Linked DNA regions of Homo sapiens: region 2 is linked to region 1. The links come from fine-mapping of genetic effects on gene expression. A gene starts in region 1. The other region holds a variant in brackets. All regions are shown on one strand. Distances are between the middles of the regions.

Evidence for each region. PIP is the estimated chance that this variant, and not a neighbour inherited with it, causes the effect.
Region 2: its variant is the best candidate, but not a certain one, in a credible set for the expression of TXLNA in whole blood (TOPMed, PIP 0.86).

What each region holds. Positions count from the first base shown.
Region 1 is chr1:32,174,159-32,184,858 of GRCh38, reverse strand. TXLNA (taxilin alpha) reads right to left here and starts at 5,184. Exons shown (of 11, transcript NM_175852.4): 1 at 5,083-5,184; 2 at 4,345-4,545; 3 at 3,282-3,617; 4 at 243-334. The coding sequence starts at 4,513. It overlaps KPNA6 (karyopherin subunit alpha 6), which reads right to left. Exons shown (of 14, transcript NM_012316.5): 14 at 8,296-10,700. RefSeq lists enhancers at 4,181-4,230, 4,241-4,400, 4,521-4,600, 4,488-5,246, 5,247-6,006 and silencers at 4,801-4,980, 5,121-5,310.
Region 2 is chr1:32,228,208-32,238,907 of GRCh38, reverse strand. It overlaps EIF3I (eukaryotic translation initiation factor 3 subunit I), which reads right to left. Exons shown (of 11, transcript NM_003757.4): 7 at 10,299-10,409; 8 at 10,092-10,181; 9 at 9,700-9,773; 10 at 7,889-7,981; 11 at 7,304-7,793. The coding sequence ends at 7,712. It also overlaps the pseudogene MTMR9LP. Among named protein-coding and RNA genes, the nearest start is that of EIF3I, 11 kb to the right of the region's middle. RefSeq lists an enhancer at 5,639-6,139. The variant A/G (reference allele first, on the strand shown) is at 5,282.

The DNA of each region.
Region 1 (10,700 bases):
CAAGGGCTCTACCACCTTGGAATCATTCTTTGAGAAATTTCTTTCAAGGAATATGCAGTTTCTCCTCTTGCTGCACAGCCCTGAAGAGGCTGGCTGGAAGTGATTCCCCATTTAACAGATAGTTCAGAGAAAAGCTGAACAGGAATTAAGCCACCTACTTGACTCTGCACCCCCAACCTTACACCAGGTGGCATGCTGATTTTCCCAACGCAGGGAAGGTGCCCGCGGAGGGGGGAACTGACCAGTTCAGCATACTTCTTGCACAGAGCAGCCAGCTTCTCCTCTGGGGTACTCAGAGTATTCAATGTCTGCATCAGCAACGTGATCTCCTTCCCTGAAAAGCACAGGAGCAAAGACATGCACCCTCTTCTCCAGGTGTCCCCTCCAGGCCTGGGCTCACACTCATGAGTGCTGAAGACAGCCCTCCCCATCATACTTTATATTTTGCTTGTTGATTAGCTGCCTTCCTTGCCATAAGGACCAACTCAATCCTGCCCTCACTATAGCCCCAGTACTGTCCATAGTACCATCACAGAGGATATGCTCAACAAATGCTTATCAAATGAACGACTGTACCCTAGTGAAATCTCCTTAGTAGGCACCATTGGCAGGAGAAAAAAACTGCCTGCTCTACCAATAGAAGAAAGGTGTCCCACTTATGAATTCAGGGCTACTGTTTCATACTGTTTCAATGCAAGGAAGGCCCACCCTCCTGATAGAGGTAGGATCCAAAAAGGAATAGGTATCTTAGCCTCCTTGAGAAATACTAAACTCTTGTCAACAGAGTAGCCAAACAGTGAACTTTAAAATGAAGATACTTTCGGCCAGGCAAGGTGGCTCATGCCTGTAATCCCAGCACTTTGGGAGGCCGAGGCAGGCGGATCACGAGGTCAAGAGATCGAGACCATCCTAACATGGTGAAACCCCATCTCTACTAAAGACATACACAAAAAAATTAGCTTGGTGTGGTGGCACGCGCCTGTAGTCCCAGTTACTCCGGAGGCTGAGGTAGGAGAATCGCTTGAACCCAGGAGGCGGAGGTTGCAGTGAGCCCAGATCGCGCCACTGCACTCCAGCTTGGTGACAGAGCGAGACTCTGTCTAAAAAAATTAATTAATTAAAAAAAAAAGGCAGGGTACAGTGGCTTACGCCTGTAATCCCAGCACTTTGGGAGGCTGAGGCGGGCGGATCACGAGGTCAGGAGATCAAAACCATCCTGGCTAACACAGTGAAACCCCGTCTCTACTAAAAAAAATACAAAAAAATTAGCCGGGCATGGTAGCAGGAGCCTGTAGTCCCAGCTACTCGGGAGGCTGAGGCAGGAGAATGGCGTGAACCCAGGAGGTGGAGCTTGCAGTGAGCCGAGATCGCGCCACTGCACTCCAACCTAGGGACAGAGCGAGGCTCCATCTCAAAAAAAAAAAAAAAAAAAAAAGGCAGGGTACGGTGGCCCACGCCTGTAATCCCAGCACTTTGGGAGGCCCAGGTGGGCGGATCATGAGGTCAGGAGATCGAGACTATCCTGGCTAACACAGTGAAACCCTGTCACTACTAAAAAAATACAAAAATTAGCCGGGCATGGTGGCAGGCGCCTGTAGTCCCAGCTACTCGGGAGGCTGAGGCAGGAGAATGGTGTGAACCCGGGAGGCGGAGCTTGCAGGGAGCTGAGATCGCGCCAGTGCACTCCAGCTTGGGTGACAGAGCAAGACTCCATCTCAGTTGGGGGTGGGGGGTGAAGAAGATGATACTTTCCATGTATGTGACGTTAAGATTTTTTCCTTTTTCTTTTTTTGAGATGGAGTCTCACCCTGTCACCCAGGCTGGAGTGCAATGGCATGATCTCAGCTCACTGAAAACTCTGCCTCACGGGTTCAAGTGATTCTCCTGCCTCAGCCTCCCGAGTATCTGGGATTATAGGCACGTGCCACCACGCCCGGCTGATTTTTTGTATCTTTAGTAGAACTGGGGTTTCACCATGTTGGCCAGGCTGGTCTCGAACTCCTGACCTCATAATCTGCCTGCCTTGGCCTCCCAAAGTGCTGGAGTTACAGGTGTGAGCCACTCTGCCTAGTCGTCCCTAAGATTTTTTAAAGTTCCTCTTTAAAGTAAGAGGATACATAAGGGGAAAAGGGAATAGGAATAAAACATGGATATAATGACACTCGACTTAGATTCTAGATTCTTTTTTTTTTTTTTTGAGACAGAGTTTCACTCTTGTCACCCAGGCTGGATGTAGTGGCACAATCTCAGTTCACTGCAACCTCTGCCTCCCGGGTTCAAGCCATTCTCCTGCCTCAGCCTCCCAAGTAGCTGGGATTACAGGCGTGTGCCAGCATGTCCAGCTAATTTTTGTATTTTTAGTAGAGACGGGATTTCATCATGTTGGCCAGGCTGTTCTCGAACTCCTGACCCTCAGGTGATCCACCCGCCTCGGCCTCCCAAAGTGCTGCAATTACAGGCGTGAGCCACCACACCCGGCCTAGACTCTTAAACATACATACCCTGCTGTAAAATGACTGTCACTGCCTATTCCCCATTGCCTGTGACTGAGTCAGGGAGCCTTCCCTCTGCCTCCCCAGAAGGGCCCAAGAGATCAGCATGGAGACTGCAATTCGCAGGCATGTGTGCCAAATCCAACCCACGGATGGGTTTTGTTTGGCTCTTACCATTTTAGCTGCTAACTATGAAAAAATCTAGAGTTCTCACATAACTCTAGATTTCTGGCTTTTCTTTATTTAAAAAAAAAAAAAAAAAAAAAAAGCCTGACTGCACCCAGCCTGTAGTTTTGCCTGCTCTCAGTTGGCTAGCTGAGAGCAACTAATCAGGAAGCAGTAAAGCCTCCATCTTCAGGTGGCCCCATGGCCAGCCCAGCTTATGCAGATATTTGGGTTTTCAACTCTGGCCTAGTCTAATTTTCTTACTGTAAAGAGAAATATAAACTAAGACCCAGAGAGGAGAAGGGACACACCCAAGGTCACACAGCAGGTAGTACTGGCTGGCACAGGAGCCTACCCTAGCCTCCCGTCTCCATTTTCTCAAAGAGAGAACAGGTCCCATGCCAAGCTCCAGTTGCTCCAAAACCCAGAAGGCTTTGTGCTGGTAACTCCTGCATCTCTCTATGCCGTGGCCCCCACATCCCTGGCTTTGATTAGACTAGAGTGACTTGCTGCTCTGAGAAGTACCGTTTTCCTTTGAATCCTGGCAGAACAGACTGGCCCAGAGAACGTCAAGTCCAAACTCCCTCTCCTCACCAGCTTCACAAAGAGCCGCCCTCTGCTCACCCAAACCCTTGGCTTTTTTCTTCTCCTGTGGCCTTCGATGGTCTCGGTCTCCGACCTCGTCACTCTGCCGGATCTCTTCTGTGTTTGGATCCCCCTTGGAGGGTTCCTTCTCTCCATTGACTACTGGAGTTGGTTCAGGCTCCCCATTCCTTGCCACATAGGTCCGGGACTTCTCTGCATCTTCGGGTTCAGCCGGCTCACCCTGTGCCCCATCCTCGCCGGGGCCCCCCTGGTTATTGTCCACACAGTATGTGCTCAGTATGTCTTCCAGTTGGCGGCTCAGCTCCTCAGAGACATCACGAAGGGCCCCAGACTGAGCCGTTCTGGCTTGAGCCCCTACAGCAGGAGAGGATGAGGGGTAGAGTGAGAAAGAAGACGATTATACCACTGGTTGGGATTTTTCAGGCCCAGCCAAACTCATCAGTTTGAGTTAAATGTTGCCTAACTTTTTTTTTTATGGAAACTGAGAAGCAAGAATGGAGTATCATTCAGCAAATCTAGTTCCTGTCAGAATTTAGATTCGAAACATCTTTTAAATCAAGAAATTATAGTAATCGTTGCCTAACTTCTTTAAGTCTGTTTACTTGTAAAATGACACAACTATTTCTCACTACCACCCGAACATATTTGTTAGATCATAAAAGTATGTAAAGCATCAGCACACAGGGATGGCACGGAGCAACTTCTAGTCCATCTCCTTCCCCCCCACAAAACCATTTCTTGCCATTCAGATCATTCTAGAAATGCCTCAAACAGGAAGGGCAGTTAGCTGCTGGTGGCTGAGGTGTTTCTAACGGGACCTGGATTTCCTGACTGGGTGCCTCGTTTGGCTGCCACCTGACTTAATCCCGTCGGAGCTTCTCTCCAGAACTCTGTTCCTGTGCTTAGAGGGGGCAGCTCCGCCAACTCGCCAGAGCGCAGGGGGGACCGCGGCCCCCAGCACTGTCCTCTCATTCTACATCTCCTCCTCCCGGACAACCTGGCCTCGGCCTGTAAGTCCAGAAGCGAGGCCGACCCCACAGCTCCTCCCCCTGCCCGCTGGCAACGCAGAGCTGGCACACACCCTCCGGCTTCCGAGGAGCCTGGCTGCTGCCGGGACCTTCTGCTTCTACTGCAGGAGCCGCCTGGCTGGGCCGCTCCTGGGCTCCCTCGGGTCCTGCTTCCGGTTGTCCTGGGCTGCTTTTTGGATTGGATTGTTTGGCAGCCCCGTTCTTTTTGTCTTGGTTCTTCATTGTGATGAGCGATGCTGGGTCAGGAGAAGATCCTTTAGAAACAAACACAGTTGCTATTTTCCAGACTTCGAAATTCTTCGCAGCCTGGATCAGAAATCCCCACAGCAGGCGCACAAAGCTTCTTAAAATAAACGGACCGGCAGGCCCGGGCGGAGGGCGCCAACGGCTCTCTGGTCTTGGCGGGTCAGGAGAGCCCGACGTGCCGGGGCAGGCTTTCGGGGCGCAGCTCCCACAGCGGGTGAGGGAAGAGGCCTCTTCTCCCTGGAGCCACTTCCCGGCACAACCGGCCCCCTCGCGGCAGGCCGGGCGCGGGATTGGCTCAGGGCCGGAGACTGACGTGGCGGGACTCCCGGCACCGCCCCCGCCCCTCAGGCCCCACGTGCGCCCCCCGCGCGCGCAGCCACCCACGCCCCGCGCGCCCTCAAGCCGCGAGGCACGCCCGCGCATGCGCATATCCCCAGACAGCCCCCGGCCCACGCGGGGAGTTGGCGTGATTTCCCCACAGGCCGAGAACATCCCGGCCCGCACACTCTCAAATAGTCTCGCCCACCGGCCGCCGCTGCACGTACCTCACCGCCGACGTCCGATGGCTTCCCCACCTCTGGCCTCGCACCGGAAACCCCGAGTAACTGCTGCCGGCCAGCCGCCTGCTCCCGCCTCAGCCAATCAATAGCCGGCGCCGGCGCGGAGCTTGCTGGGAAGGACGAAGCGAGGGCGGCCTCGGAGGCGGGCGCCCCGGCAGGGCGGGGCAGGGAAAAGACTACGCGTCCCTCTTTACGCAGGGGCTAGCCGCAGATCCCAAGGTGCATAAGGGACTGTAGTCCTGGGAGTCCAAAAGGAGCCCGTCATTCTGCACGAGTGCCCATGTCAACCTTGTTTCTATCTCGCAGAAGCTATGCTTCAACTCCCAAAGCCTTGCGCCTGGCTGTTGTTTCCTGCAGGCCTCCATCAAACCTTCCTCCCTGGCCGTGAACAAATGTGACTCCATCCGGGAACTCCGAGGACTCGGGAAGAGGGATAGAGTCCTGGGCTGAGACTCAGGAGACCCATACTCCAGTCCCAACTTCATCACGGATTTGCTGTGTGGCTGGACGTTCTGTTCTCTCTCTGGGCCTCAATGTCCTTCTTCCAAAGGAGGCTTTTAATAACAATAGCAGTTCCTTGAACGCTTACTGTGTGCTTTCCCGCTATCTAATAGCTTGGTTCTCATAACCACTCATAGAAATAACTACTATCTGTTATCCCCATTTTACGGAAAAGGACAGTAAGAGAAAGGTTAGGTAACTTATCCAAGGTCATATCGATAGTGAGTGGTTAAAACAGGGATTCAAAACTGGTAAGTCTGAGACCAGCACCCAGGTAATTACCTGGTCTTTCACCCAGAAGAAACACTACCACAGCAGGTTTCCCTGAGGCAGTCAAGGTAACTTGTGAAAGTAGGTCATATTTTCCCCTCTCCATTACCATTTTGGCAGTCAGTTCCTCAGAAAGGTGCTGAGTTAGGCTTCAGGCATATTCATGAGCCTTTTCTCTACCCCACACTCTACAAAGTCTCACTGGGGTTAAAGTAGAAAAAACCCCCACAGTTCCCTACACATGAGATCACAATTCTGTATCCCCATTGCTTCTGGATAATGAAATCAAACCCAACAATCCTTGTGCCTGGAATTTGAAGCCTAAGAGATTTGACTTTTGCCAAACCCAAAATTTTTTGAGGCCCAGTTCAAAGGTCACTTCAGAGCCTTCCCAGTGCTCTGCAAACCGTACTTGCTCCCTAGGTCTGCAGAGTTGTTACAGCATTAGCAGTGAGGTGTTGAAATTACTATTTACTTATAAGTCAGTTAATTTTGCAAGAACTGTTGGCTAAATAGTCTAGTCCCAGAGCCTCGCATCAGGCTGTGGGTAGAGAAGATTGTAAACTGTTGTGCTAATTGAGCGTTGGTTTAGGGCTGTTAGGATGTTAAATATTTCCCCCAAAGGCTCAGTGAAAGACTTCAGAGCCGTGCATGTTGGATTTCAGATTTTCAGATTGGGGAAGCTCAACCGGTAAAATTTGAGAAAATCCCAAATTGGAAACACTTCTGGTCCCAAGCATGTTGGATAAGAGATATTCAATTTTTAGTATAATGATGGAACTGAGGCTCAGAAAGGTTGGAATCTAGATGTCCTGAAACCAAGGCCCTGATTATTTCTAGAAAAGCATTCTGGAAATCTCTTGAGAAGGCACCATATAAATCAGGCCTTGATAGATTTCCATATAACAAGGGTGTTCTAGGTGAGATAAAGAACATAAAAATGTATGCATGGGGTGAGGGATAGAGGATGTAGTAGAAGGGTCAACAATAGCCTAGAGGGGCCAGTTGGGTAATGAGAACAGGCAAGAATAATTGACAGAAACATAGGTTAACAAGTTACTTTCTCCTTTGCTATAAACAATATATAGCAACAATATTAGCACCTGCCAGAGTGAGGGAGAGGTGGTGATTGCAGTAAAATACAGCAGCTCTTGCACATTGTTAGCAAGCAGAAACTCAGGCCGGGTAGGGCCAGATTGTATTTTTGTTTTTTAGACAGGTTTTACTCAGCTGCTGGGGCTGGAGTGCAGTGATCATAATAGCTCACTGCAGACTCGACCACCTGGACTCAAGTGATCCCCTTGCCCCAGCCTCCCAAGTAGCTAGGATTACAGGTATGTGCCACCACAGCCAGCTAACTTTTAAATTTTTTTGTAGAGACAGATCTCACTTTGCTGCCCAGGCTGGTCTTGAACTCCTGGCCTCAAGTGATCCTCCTACCTTGGCCTCCCAAAGGGTTGGGATTACAGGCATGAGCCACAGTGCTTGGCCTCTTTTTAAAAATGGAGACTTCAGGACAGTCTTTTTCAAGACAGACATTTGATTTAAAAAAAAAATGTTGGCAACTAATTCAAACTTAAACACGCTCTGCCAAGCAAAACCTTCCTGTGGGTTCAATCAACTTTCTGGCTGCTTGTCTGTAATCTCTGCTTTAGGAATTATCTAAACTGAAGGGAGGAGTCTGTGAACTATTTGATCTTAAGAGGTTCAGGCTGGGCACGATGGCTCATGCCTGTAATCCCAGCACTTTGGGAGGCGGAGGCAGGCGGATCACCTGAGGTCAAGAGTTCAAGACCAGCCTGGCCAACGTGAAACCCCGTCTCTACTAAAAATACAAAAATTAGCTGGGCGTGGTGGCGGGCACCTGTAATCCCAGCTATTTGGGAGGCTGAGGCAGGAGAATCGCTTGAACCCAGGAGGCAGAGGTTGCAGTGAACCGAGATCACGCCATTGTACTCCAGCCTGGATGCCAAGAATAAAAAACTCCGTTTCAAAAAAAAAAAAAAGGTTCAAAGGGCTGTAGAGTGGTGCTGATGAAACTAAGTCAAAATCATTTAGAGAAACTCTAGAAAATGCAAACTAAACTACAGTGACAGCCACAGATCAGTGGTTGCTGGAGGTGGGGCAGAAAGGAGGGATTCTCAAGCGGGAAGCTTACGGCTTATGAAGGTCATAGATATATTCACTATCTTGTGGTTGTTTTATGGGTGCATATGTGTTTCAATTTATCAACGTGTATATACTTTAAATATGTACAGTTTATTGTATGTCAATTATATTTCAATAAAGTCGATGAAAAAAACTTTAGAGCAGGTGCAGGTTGGTACAACTCTTATTTCCACTGTTAAGCTACAAATTTAAACACCTCCTCATTCTCTTCCCCCAAATCCAGTCTAGGGTCACTCCAAGCCAAAGAAGACAATTTAGAACTTTGCAACAGGTTTTTATTTTTGCTTTATATCTATTACAGTGTTTGAAACCTAAAGAAATACATTTTCTCTTCAAATTTGGATGTGTATATAAATAACATTTGTCTGGACTCAGCACACTCAATGCCATGTTTTCTTCGCCTATGTCTGCTCTGAAATCAAGCTGTGTCTGTCTACCCAGGGGCCCTGAGAACATGGAAAATAGAGTTTATTGTTATTAGAAAAATAAAAGCAAATGAATTTGCAAAGAAAAACCAGTGAGAAGGATTAGATTCATCTTCCAAGGGTCCATAGCTGGTAACCCAAGCCATTCTCGGGGGATATCCAGTCTCTTGAGTGGCTGGGACTCCATTACCCACTTTCCTTCTTTAATAGGTCAAAGGCAATTCCCACAAAAGCTGGCTAAAAAAGCCGACACCCAACTCCAGAGTCTGAGGGTTCATGAAGATGTGGACTTTTTTTTTTGAGACAAGAGCCTCACCCTGTCGCCCAGGCTGGCACAATCTTGGCTCACTGCAACCTCTGCCTCCTAGGTTCAAGAGATTCTCCTGCCTCAGCCTCCCACGTAGCTGAGATCACAGGTGCCCACCACCACACCTGGCTTATTTTTTTTATTTTTTTATTTTTGTAGGGACGGGGTTTTACTATGTTGGTCAGGCTGGTTTTGAACCCCTAACCTCAAGTGATCTGCCCGCCTCAGCCTCCCAAAGTGCTAGGATTACAGGCATGAGCCACCGCGCCCAGCTGAAGATGTGGATTTTTTTTTTTTTTTTTTTTTTGAGATGGAGTCTCGCACTGTCACCCAAGCTGGAGTGCAGTGGCATGATCTTGGCTCACTGCAACCTCCGCCTCCTGGGTTCAAGTGATTCTCCTGTCTCAGCCTCCCAAGTAGCTGGGATTACAGGCGCCTGCCACCACGCCCAGCTAATTTTTTGTATTTTTATTAGAGATGGGGTTTCACTATGTTGCCAGGCTGGTCTCAAACTCCTGACCTCGTGATCCACCCGCCTCGGCCTCCCAAAGTGCTGGGATTACAGGCATGTGCCACCGCGCCTGGCCAGATGTGGACTCTTTAAAGACATGCTCTGAGTCAGAGGTTCCCAGCCAGTGTTAGGATCTCTGAGAGCTTACTTCCTTCAATGCCCCCCAGGCCATGGCGTATATAATAGTTACAGGAGAACAGGGCTGGCATTCAGCAACAGGGTTCAGGTACGAGCTAATGTGGACATCAGAAGTCAGCCTGGCCCAGAGGCAGCTAGGCAGGCCACTAAGATACACTACATAAACCTTTTCCCATGGTGTTCTGGGCCTAACATGTAATACTGCCTCTTCTAACTCTCACAGCCTGCTTAGGTTCTGCACATAGCCCAGACCTGAAGCAAAGCGCCCTTGCAGAGAAAAAAATAACAGCTTTAATTCACAGATTTGGTTGGTCTTGACCTCAAGTTCTTCCTTTGCCACGGTCTAAATCAGGGTGTGGGGCTAGAGGACAGATAATGAGAGACTGAATCATTTATGAAGGCCTTGGCCAAAGAGCAGCTAGTGCCCACTACATGGATCCCAGCAGGGCCAAATTCTCAACTTGTTGGCTTAACAAAAGAATGAAAAAGCTCAAACAGAAAACATACTGGACAAGGTTGGTCCAGAACATGCAATCCTAAATGGCTATGGAATAAATTTATTCTGAGCAATATCTCAGTCTCACACTCACTAAATTCTAGGGTAGTTCTATTGAAGATGTTTACCATGGTTTAGCGCACTGAGCCCTGCACCCTTCCCCAGGCTGCCAGGGAAGCAGAGAGGTACAAACATTCCTAATGCCCCAGTCAGCCTGTTCTCCCTATGGGGTCCCTGGATTACCTGCAGGGACCTGGGGGAAATTGGCTCCCTGTCTTCAGCTGAGAGTCTGGAATCTGAACCCTAGATGAATCTACTGAAGAATGCTCAAGATGATGGATACCAAGCTGAGTGAGTCTAGGGGAGAAGAGAGGCCTGAACAAAAGAGCTGGGGCCTTCAAAGAGGTGTATGAGAGGTGAGGTTAGTAGTGCCAGGCTTTCCTATCTTTTCCTTCTAGTTTGCTAGAAACAAGTACAACTTTAGGGTGTGGGGGGAAGGCAGGTAGACATGAAGAAATGGAAATACAGTTCATTCTGCTAGACATTTTAAACTGGTTTGGCTTGAGAAAAATAGAAAGTCTGTGCCTGAGAACCTTCTTTTCCTCTCCCTTATTTAAGTACAATAGCAGCTATAATCTGTGCAGTTCAGCTCCAAAAAACAGGGCTCCTGGAAGATGGCTTTCATGGCAGAGAGTTGATGGGGTAGATTAATGGGCTCTAGGTAAGGAGCAACACCAAGGGTCCCTGAAAACTGAGGCCAACACCTGCTCCCTGGGGGGGGGCCAT
Region 2 (10,700 bases), 54 kb before region 1:
TCCCAGGTTCAAGTGATTCTCCTGCCTCAGCTTCCCAAATAGCCGGGATTACAGGCACCTGCCACCACGCCCAGCTAATTTTTTTTTTTTTTTTGTATTTTATCTTATTTTATTTTATCATAATAATTATTTTTTAAGATGGAGTCTTGCTTTGTTTCCCAGGCTGGAGTGCAGTAGCGTGATCTTGGCTCTCTGCAACCTCCATTTCCTGGGTTCAAGTAACTCTCCCATCTCAGCCTCCCAAGTAGCTGGGACTACATGCACGTGCCACCATGCCTGGCTAATTTTCTTTTCTGTATTTTATTTTATTTTATTATTTTTTGAGACAGAGTCTCACTCTGTCGCCCAGGCTGGAGTGTGATGGTGCGATCTCAGCTCCCTGCAACCTCTGCCTCCCAGATGCAAGCAATTCTCATACCTCAGCCTCCCAAGTAGTTGGGACTACAGGAGCCTGCCACCATGCCCAGCTAATTTTTTTTTTGTATTTTATTTTATTATTATTATTTTTGAGATAGAATCTCTCTTTGTTGCCCAGTCTGGAGTGCAGTGGTGTGATCTTGGCTCACTGCAACCTCCATTCCCCGGGTTCAAGTGATTCTCTCGCCTCAGTCTCCTGAGTAGCTGGGACTACAGGCGCGTGCCACCAGGCCCGGCTAATTTTTGTATTTTTAGCAGAGATGGGGTTTTGCCATGTTGGCCAGGCTAGTCTGGAACTCCTCACCTCAAGTGGTCTGCCCATCTCAGCCTCCCAAAGTGTTGGGATTACAGGCATGAGCCACCACGCCCAGCCTTTTTTTTGTATTTTAGCAGAGATGGGGTTTCATCATGTCACTCAGGGTGGTCTTGAACTCCTGAGCTCGGGCAATCCACCTGCTTCAGTCTCCCAAAGTACTAGGATTACAAGCGTGAGCCACTGCATCCAGCCAAGTTTAATTTATACAGTAAGCACAACAATAACTAATAATAAAGTAGAACAATTACAATAATATGCTATAATAAAAGTTGTATAGGTCAGGTGCTGAGGTAAAAGATAGGTATTTTTGGAGATTTAGAAGATTGTGGCTGGGCACAGTGACTTATGCCTGTCATCTCAGCACTTTGGCAGGCTGAGGAGGGTGGATCCCTTGAGCCCAAGAGTTTGAGACCAGCCTGGGCAACATAGGGAGACCCTGTCTCTGTACAAAATACAAAAATTGGCTGGGTGTGGTGGCTCATGCTGGTAATCCCAGCATTTTGGGAGGCTGAGGCGGGAAGATCACCTGAGGTCAGGAGTTTGAGACCAGCCTGACCAACATGGAGAAACGCCGTCTCTACTAAAAATACAAAATTAGCCGGGCGTGATGGCACATGCCTTTAATCCCAGCTACTCAGGAGACTGAGGCAGGAGAATCGCTTGAACCTGAAAGGCAGAGGTTGCAGTGAGCTGAGATAGCACCATTGCACTCCAGCCTAGGCAACAAGAATGAAACTCCATCTCAAAAAAAAAAAAAAAAAAAAATTAGCTACATGTGGTGGTGCACACCTGTAGTCCCAGCTTCTCAAGAGGCTGAGGTGGATGGCTTGAGCCTGGGAGGCAGAGGTTGCAGTGAGCTGTAATTGTGCCACTGCACTCCAGCCTGGGTGAGAGCAAGATCCTGTCCCAAAATTAGCCAGGCATGGTGGTGTGCTCCTGTAGGCCCAGCTACTCAAGAGGCTGAGGTGGGAGATCACTGGAGCCCCGGGAGGTGGAGGCTGCAGTGAACTGTAATCACACCACTGCACTCGAGGCTGGCTGACAGAATGAGACCCTGTCTCAAAAAAAAAAACAAAAAAAAAATGGCCGGGTGCGGTGGCTCATGCCTGTAATCCTGGCACTTTGGGAGACCAAGGCGGGTGGATCACCTGAGGTCAGGAGTTCGAGACTAGCCTGGCTAACATGGTGAAACCCCACTTCTACTAAAAATACAAAAAATTAGCCAGGTGTGGTGCGGGCCTGTAATCCCAGCTATTTGGGAGGCTGAGGCAGGAGAATCGCTTGAAACTGGGAGGTGGAGGTTGCAGTGAGCCGAGATCACGCCATTACACTCCAGCTTGGGCAACAAGAGTGAAACTCCAAAAAAAAAAAGTTGTATGAGGCCGGGCATGGTAGCTCACGCCTGTAATCCCAGCACTTTGGGAGGCCGAGCTAGGTGGGTCACGAGGTCAGGAGATCGAGACCATCCTGGCTAACATGGTGAAACCCTGTCTCTACTAAAAATACAAAAAAAATTAGCCAGGTGTGGTGACGGGCTCCTGTAGTCCCAGCTACTCAGGAGGCTGAGGCAGGAGAATCGCTTGAACCCAGGAGGCAGAGGTTGCAGTGAGCTGAGATTGCGCCACTGCACTCCAGCCTGGGTGACCTAGAGTGAGACTCAATCTAAAAAAAATAAACAGTTGTATGAATGTGATCTCTTTCTTAAAATATCTTATTGTACTATACTCACCCTTCTTGTGATGATGTGAGATGCTTAAATGCCCATGTGATGAGATGTGGTGAATGACATAGGCCTTGTAATGCAGCCTTAGGCTCCTACTGACCTTGAACACAAGCCCACTGCAGTACTGCCACAGTCACTCTGATAACCAAGACAGCTACTAAGTGACTAATGGGCAGACAGTGTGTGCAGCATGGATATGCTGGACAAAGGGATGACTCCTATCCAGCGAGACAGAGCAGGGTGACTCAAGATTTCGTCACAACATTCAGAAGGGCTTACAATTTAAAACTTATGAATTGTTTATTTCTGGAATTTTCCATTTAATATTTTCAGGCCACAGTTGACCATGGGTAACTGAAACCTCAGAAAGTGAAACCATGGATGGGGTCAACTAATGTCCTTTGGTATGGTGGGAGTGTCGAGTATGAAATGGGAGGACAGATGAGGCTACAGATAAGCTTAGACTTTATCCTCAAGGCAGTGGGCAGCCACTGAAGGCTTTTAAACAGAGCTGAGAAGTCGCTGTTAGATTTTCTGGCAGGAGGTCACCAGTAACCTTGAACAGAGCAGTTTCTGGGAGGTAGGAGCAGATGCAGAATTCCAAGAGAACTGTGTTTTTCTTGTCAGACCGGGGCTCCCCAGGGAATGCTATGTTGCTCCCATCAGACTGGTGTACATCAAGGGTGTTGTGATACTTCCATCAAATTGGTGGTTTCCCAGGACATTGTGTGTTTCCCCAGAGGGCTATGTGACCCTTCCCCAGGTACTTTCTCAAAGGGTCTTGAGTCTCTCCCATCAGACTGAGGAATCCTCAAAGCTAAGAAACCATTTTAGGCTGGGCGCGGTGGCTCATGCCTGTAATCCCAGCACTTTGGGAGGCCGAGGTGGGCGGATCACAAGGTCAGGAGTCCGAGACCATTCTGGCCAACATGGTGAAACCTAACAATGCAAAAACTAGCTGGGTGTGGTGGCGGTCGCCTGTAGTCCCAGCTACTCTGGAGGCTGAGGCAGAAGAATCACTTAAACCCGGGAGGCGGAGGTTGCAGTGAGCTGAGATCGCACCACTGCACTCCAGCCTGGAGACAGAGCAAGATTCCGTCTCAAAAAAAAAAAAAAACCATTTCATGGACAGAACGAGACGCTGTCTCAAAGATTAGGAACTCCTCTGTGGGTCGTGTGTGCCGTGAGACTGGACTCCCTAAAGGGCTCTGTGTCCCTTTTATCAGATGGGCTCTTTACAGGATTCTGTGTCTCCCTCATTGGTCTTGAGCACTTGCTCCCTGGCTGTACTTGGCAAGGGCTTGAGCTGGAAAAGATGACCAGACTCCCACCGCCCAGAGGGCGTCCCCTGCAGGAGAGCTTCATGCGCCTGGTGGAGGCCTGTGGGGACTCGGAGCAAAGCATGGACAACTGGCTGAGTCGGCTGGACGGCTGCCGCTGACTGTAACATGTAAAGCAGGCACTGAGCACCACCTGCCTGGCAGTCCAGGGCATGGAGAGGTAAGGCCCCATTGACATAGAGAATAGGGTGAGATGGGCAGGGCTCTCAACCCCTGGATGCAAAACTGTGATTCAGTAAGCAAATATAGCCTAGAACTGGGTCCATTCTATTCCTGGCCTGGTACATGGGGCTGAAGGCACAGACAGCACCCTGCTTGTGACTTCACTGGCCCAACTCATCCTGGACCCCTTGAGCAAGACCATGGCTGGATTCCAGGAACTGGTGGAGTGGAAGTGGATCCAGGAAAGTAAGTGACCACCCAACCCCAGCCTTACCCTCCATCCAGAAACTTGCTTCCTCGTGCCCATTGCTCTGCCCCCTCCCCAGGCCAGCCACCCCTTCCAGCTGCGCTGTGCCCATTCAGCCTTCTCCCATGCCCACCCCAAGCATGAGGCACCCACCTTTCTCCTCTTCCTGGACTGCGTGTGGCAGCTGGGCTGCCGGTTCCCACTGTCATTGGAGTTTGGGGAAGGGCTACTGTTGGCGCTGTTTGGGCACGCCTATGCCTCCTCTTTTGGCACCTTCCTCTGCAACAGCGAAAAGGAGAGGTGAGCTGAGGGGGTGTTGAGGTAGCTTAGGGGCAGGCACAGGAAAGGGTTGGATACCTGTGCCATCAGTGCCTTACTTCCTTTTTTTTTTTTTTTTTGAGATGAAGTCTCGCTCTGTCACCTGTCGCCTGGTCTGGAGCGCAGTGGCACGATCTGGGCTCACTGCAACCTTTGCCTCCCTGGTTCAAGCTATTCTCCAGCCTCAGCCTCCCGAGTAGCTGGGATTACAGGAATGTGCCACCACGTCCGGCTAATTTTTATACTTTTAGTATAGATGGAGTTTCACCATATTGGCCAGTCTGATCTCAAACTCCTGACCTCAGGTGATCTGCCCACCTCGGCCTCCTAAAGTGCTGGGATTACAAGCGTGAGTCACTCCGCCCAGCCAGCACCTTACTTCCTTAGGAGCCATCTTTCCCGAATTCAAGTGGGTTTGTCTTTTAGGAAAACTGAGTGTTCTCCTTGCCCCACCTCCAAATCTCATACTTCCTCCTAACTTCTGCAAACCCAGAGATAAATAGGTCCAAGGCCAATCCTTTAGACAGACCTACTCTGTCCATAGCCAATTGCAAGTGAACCCCTACCTTGAAAACAAGGATTAAAGGGGAAATTTGCTGCAAAAATAATTTATAAGGCTCTCTACCACTTTGCAAGGTCGATTGTTTCAAAGCAATAGAACAGAGGTTGAAAGCAGAGTGGAATCATTTGGGCTCAAATTCCAGTTTCACCACTCACCTGCTGGGTGTTCATAGCAAACCCGTCTGAGTCTCAATCTC[A/G]TCGGTAGCATGAAGGGGATAAGAGCAGCCATAATCTGGCCGGGCGCGGTGGCTCACGCCTGTAATCCCAGCACTTTGGGAGCTGAGGCAGGCAGGTCACCTGAGATCAGGAGTTTGAGACCAGCCTGGCCAACATGGTAAAACCCCATCTCTACTAAAAATACAAAAAATTAGGCCTGGCACGGTGGCTCACACCTGTAATCCCAGCACTTTGGGAGGCTGAGGTGGGCAGATCACAAGGTCAGGAGATCGAGACCACCCTGGCTAACATGGTGAAACCCCCTGCCTACTAAAAATACAAAAAATTAGCCGGGCATGTTGGCACCCGCCTGTAGTCCCAGCTACTCAGGTGGCTGAGGCAGGAGAATCACTTGAACCTGGGAGTCAGAGGTTGCAGTAAGCCAAGATCCCACCACTGCACTCCAGCCTAGGTGTCAGAGCAAGACTCCATCTCAAAAAAATATAATTAGCCGGGCGTGTTGGCACATGCCTGTAATCCCAGCCACTTGGGAAGCTAAGGCATGAGAATTGCTTGCACCTGGGAAGCAGAGGTTGCAGTGAGCCGAGATCATGCCATTGCATTCCAGCCTAGGCAACAGGGTGGGACTCCATTAAATAAATAAATAAATAAATAAGTAAATAAAAGAAGTGGTATTTTTATTATTTGGTTGGCTTGTTGCATATGCTGCCTATCAGTCCCAGATGCCAGCTGTCTTATGAGATTGAGAGATGCGGGGAGGGAGGGTTCACCTTTCCAGGGTGAAGATCAGATTTAGTTATCTTCTGTTGCTCAGTCTTCCTCTATACCCCATCCTGCTTCACTAACCCCACTAGTCCTGGATCATCTCTATTTACCTCCCTCTCCCCCATCCTTCATCTTTAGTCTTTCTCCTAAAATTGTCTGAGTTTGGTCCTCCCTTGCCAGAAGGCCCTCCCCCCGTCTTCATCCACACTGGTCTCTTCCATCTGGACTCTCCGGCAGCCGCCTCACTGTTCTCTGCATCTTCATTGTTATCAATTTTCTTTCAAAAGCTCCTGGGTCCAGACCTATCAATATTCACAGTGGGCCCTTTCCCGCCTTCTTTCTTTGGCTCATGCCGTTCTCCCCATGTTGGCTGTTGCTTTGCACAGTGGGTATGCTAGGTCTGTTGAGACTCAGCTCAAACATCACATTCTTAATTAGCCTTCTCTGACATTGAGGCAAAACTAAATTGGTTTCTCCCTTTAAATAGAACTCCTTAAGAAGTAGGACTTTGTCTTGTTCCCCTTTTATTCTAGTGCCTAGTACAAGATCTGACTAGCAATAATGTTTGCAAGAAAAAGGAGAAAAGTAAAGGTTATCACTGCTCCAAAGTGGCTGTCACCCTACTAACCAGGGCTGCCCACCCAGACTCCCAGAGGGCATACCTGGGGCTGGAAACTCACTCCCTGCCTTTCTGCAGATGCCGTGTGAAGGGAGGACTCAGATGCACTCCCTGTGGTCTGGGCTCAACCAGCCAAAAGAGCAACAAAGACTCCAGAACCCACTCTACCTCCTCAATCCCTTGGCCATCTGTGGAGCCCCAGAGCCTGCGGCTGTGGCAAGGTGAGCTCCACACCTTCTCCCCTGGGTATTACCCCTCTGCTCAGCGTCCTGACCTGTCTTCCTCCTCCTCAGGCCTGTTTCTGCGCTGGACCTGCTCACCTGAGCCTGCAGAAGCTGCATGGGGGAAGAGTGTGGCAAATAGTGACAGGAAGGGAGAAGACAGAAGCCTCTCAGCCAACTGCTTCAGCCGAGCCCCTATTCTAAGCACTGGCTCCTTGGATAGCAGCTGAGATGTTCCTGAAACCTCTGCAGGCCCCTTAGGACCTTTACACCTTGGATGAGGGTGCCTGCAACCCAGGTTAGCCAAAAGTACTGAGGGTCTTAAGTTTGAAGTGTCCAAAGTATAGGGAGGTCTCAATAATAAAAGTCTCCATGATCAGCATCAGCTTGCTGGGGTGTCAGTGAAAAGGAAAAATGATGAAACAGACACCACAAAATATCTGACCAGAAGCCATTTATTACCAAACCAATTTATTTCTTAGAGTTCAAAACCTTCTGTGAGAATCTTCTCTGGCCTGGTTGGAGATCCACCTTCTTCTTTTTTTTTTTTGAGACGGAGTTTTGCTCTTGTGGCTCAGGATGGAGTGCAATGACGTGATCTCAGCTCACTGCAACCTCTGCCTCCTGGGTTCAAGTGATTCTCCTGCCTCAGCCTCCTGAGTAGCTGGGACTATAGGCGTGTGCCACCATGCCTGGCTAATTTTTGTATTTTTAGTAGAGACGAGGTTTCTCCATGTTGGTCAGGCTGGTCTTAAACTCCTGACCTCAGGTGATCCGCCTGCCTTAAAAAAAAAGTGGTGGGATTACAGGCATGAGCCACCACGCCCGGCAGGAGATCCAGCTTCTTAAGCCTCAAACTCAAATTCGAAGTACTGTGGGTCGAAGTAATGGATACGGACGTAACCATCTTCGCCGCCGCTGCTGTAGCTGGAAAAAGATAGCCAGGCACCAGTCAGGTGCTTACTCTGGGAAAGGCAGAGACCCAACCCAGGCTTAGGTCAGCTGCTTCACTGGTACCCTACCTCTTGCCATCAGGATGGAAGGCAACACTGTTGATAGGTCCAAAGTGACCCTTGACTCTTCCAAACTCTTCTTCAAAGGCCAAATGGAAGAACCTGGAGGAAAAGGGACACAATTAATTCACTTTCTATCTTCTTCCAAAACACTTTGGAGGTGGCACTCCCCAAATGCAAATTGTTATTATTATTTATTTATTTTGAGATGGAGTCTTACTCTGTCACCCAGGGTGGAGTACAGTGGCGCAATCTCGGTTCACTGGAACCTCCCCCTCCTGGGTTCAAGCAATTCTCCTGCCTCAGCCTCCTGAGTGGTTGGGATTACAGATGCCTGGCTAATTTTTGTATTTTTAGTAGAGATGGGGTTTCACCATGTTGGCCAGGCTGGTTACGAACTCCTGGCCTCAAGCCGCCTTCCTTAGCCTCCCAATGTGCTGGGATTACAGGCATGAGCCACCACACCTGGCCTCAAATGCAAATTGTATCACAAAAAATAAAGCAGAAGCCGAGGCGCAGTGGCTCACGCCTGTAATCCCAACACTTTGGGAGGCCGAGGCGGGTGGATCACTTGAGGCCAGGAGTTTGAGACCAGCCTGGCCAACATCTCTACTAAAAATACAAAAAGCAGCCAGGGACGGTGGCCATGTACCTGTAATCCCAGCTACTCAGAAGCTGAGGTAGAAGGATCGCTTGAGCCCAGGAGGTTGCGGTGAGCAGAGATGGTGCCACTGCACTCCAGCCTGGGCAACAGAGTGAGACCCTGTCTCAAAAAATAATAATAATAAAGCAGAAAAATTGAGATAAGAAGTGAATGTGAACAAAATAAGATGGAAATTGGTGGCTGCGTGCCATGGTTCACGCCTGTAATCCCAGCACTTTGGGAGGCTGAGGACAGAGGATTGCTTGAGCCCAGGAGTTCGAGGCCAGCCTGGGCAACATAGTGAGACCCTGTCTCTTACTTTTTTAACTTTTTTATTATATGGGGAAGACTGGACCCAGATGTCTGCCTGAATACATAACTAATACTTATAGAGTGCCTACTATGTGCTGGGCAGTGCTTAAAGAGCTTAATAAATATTAACTGAATAATTTAATCTGCATAATTTTATGTTAAGTATATTGTCATTGTCTCATTATACAGTAGAGGAAATTTAGACATAGAGAAATATAATGAAGGCTGGGCACAGTGGCTCATGCCTGTAATCCCAGCACTCTGGAAGGCCAAGGTGGGCGGATTACTTAAGGCCAGGAGTTCAAGACCAGCCTGGCAAACATGGTGAAATCCTGTCTCTACTAAAAATACAAAAATTAGCCAGGCGTGGTCATGGGTGCCTGTAATCCCAGCCACCCAGGAGGCAGAGGCAGGATAATTGCTTGAACCCGGGAAGCAGAGGTTGCAGTGAGCAGAGATCGCGCCATTGCACTCCAGCCTGGGTGACAGAGCAAGACTCCGTGTCAAAAAAAAAAAAAAAAAAAAAGGCTGGGCACGGTGGCTCATGCCTGTAATCCCAGCACTTTGGGAGGCTGAGGCGGGCGTATCACGAGGTCAGGAGATCGAGACCATCCTTGCTAACACGGTGAAACCCCGTCTCTACTAAAAATACAAAAAGAAAATTAGCCAGGCATGGTGGTGGGCGCCTGGGCCGCTGAGGCAGGAGAATGGCGTCAACCCGGGAGGCAGAGCTTGCAGTGAGCAGAGATCACGCCACTGCGCTCCAGCCTAGGCGACAGAGCGAGACTCCATCTCAAAAACAAAAACAAACAAAAAAGGTACACCACATGAGATTTTAATTTGGAAGAGCTCTCTTCTTCTTTACCTGGCCTCAAACTTGCCAATCCTGGTGGAGGTTGTGGTTACATCCATGGCTTCCTGACCACCGCCCAGGACCACCTGAATGGAAGAAGAAACTCTAGATGGGACCAATGGACACCAAGTCCATTTTGTGTTTTTCTGCTGCCATATACATTTTTAACATCTCACACGGCTCAATGGGAGGATACCAAAGGTAGGGGATGATCAGACACTTCTGCCACCTCCTGCTGGCTGCCCTGGGGCTATTCAATCCTTCCAGCTTTGTCACTCCTCTGGGCATCTCCTCTCTGCCTGACATCATTTCCCCCACAATGTTGTAGCCCAACTTCTGGACAAGCATCTAGAACTTGGAAGCTTCCTGAGGCTTCAGCAGGAAGGCAGGTGGGGTTCTCTTACATGGTCATAGTTGGGGGAGAGGGCAGCTGAGTTGACAGGACGTTCTGTCCGGAAAGTCTTCTGATGTTCAAGAGTTGTGGAGTCAAAAAGCTGGAGAGAGAAGGCAGGGGGGAAATCTGTAAAGAGCTTTCCTGGGGGAAGTCGGGCAGGGTGAGCTGTGCAGCCGGAGGGAGGGAGCAGCCCTGCCAGACCGCTGCCCAGGCTCACCTTGGCTGTGTTGTCCTTGGACGCGGTCACAAACATGGTCATGTCCCTGGATAACTGGATGTCGTTGATCTGCCGGGAGTGCTCCTTAACATTCACCAACACCTCTCCAGACTAGGGAAGGAAGAAGAGTGACACTGAATGGGCCCAATCCCTACTAATCTCAGCTCCCCAGAAACCCAAGCACCCAAATGAAAGCTGAGACAGCATGGACTTTGTGTTTTCCTCACCCCCTCTATCCTATCAGTCACCCCTAAATATCCCTTGACTCTGTCCAGTAATGTACATCCTATGCCTATTGGCTAGTTCAGGTTCACTCTCCAAACATAAACTGCAAAAGCTGTTGGAAGGAAAATCTGGCCATTGATAACCCTTTAAAGATTCCCTACTGCCTGGAGGAAAGTC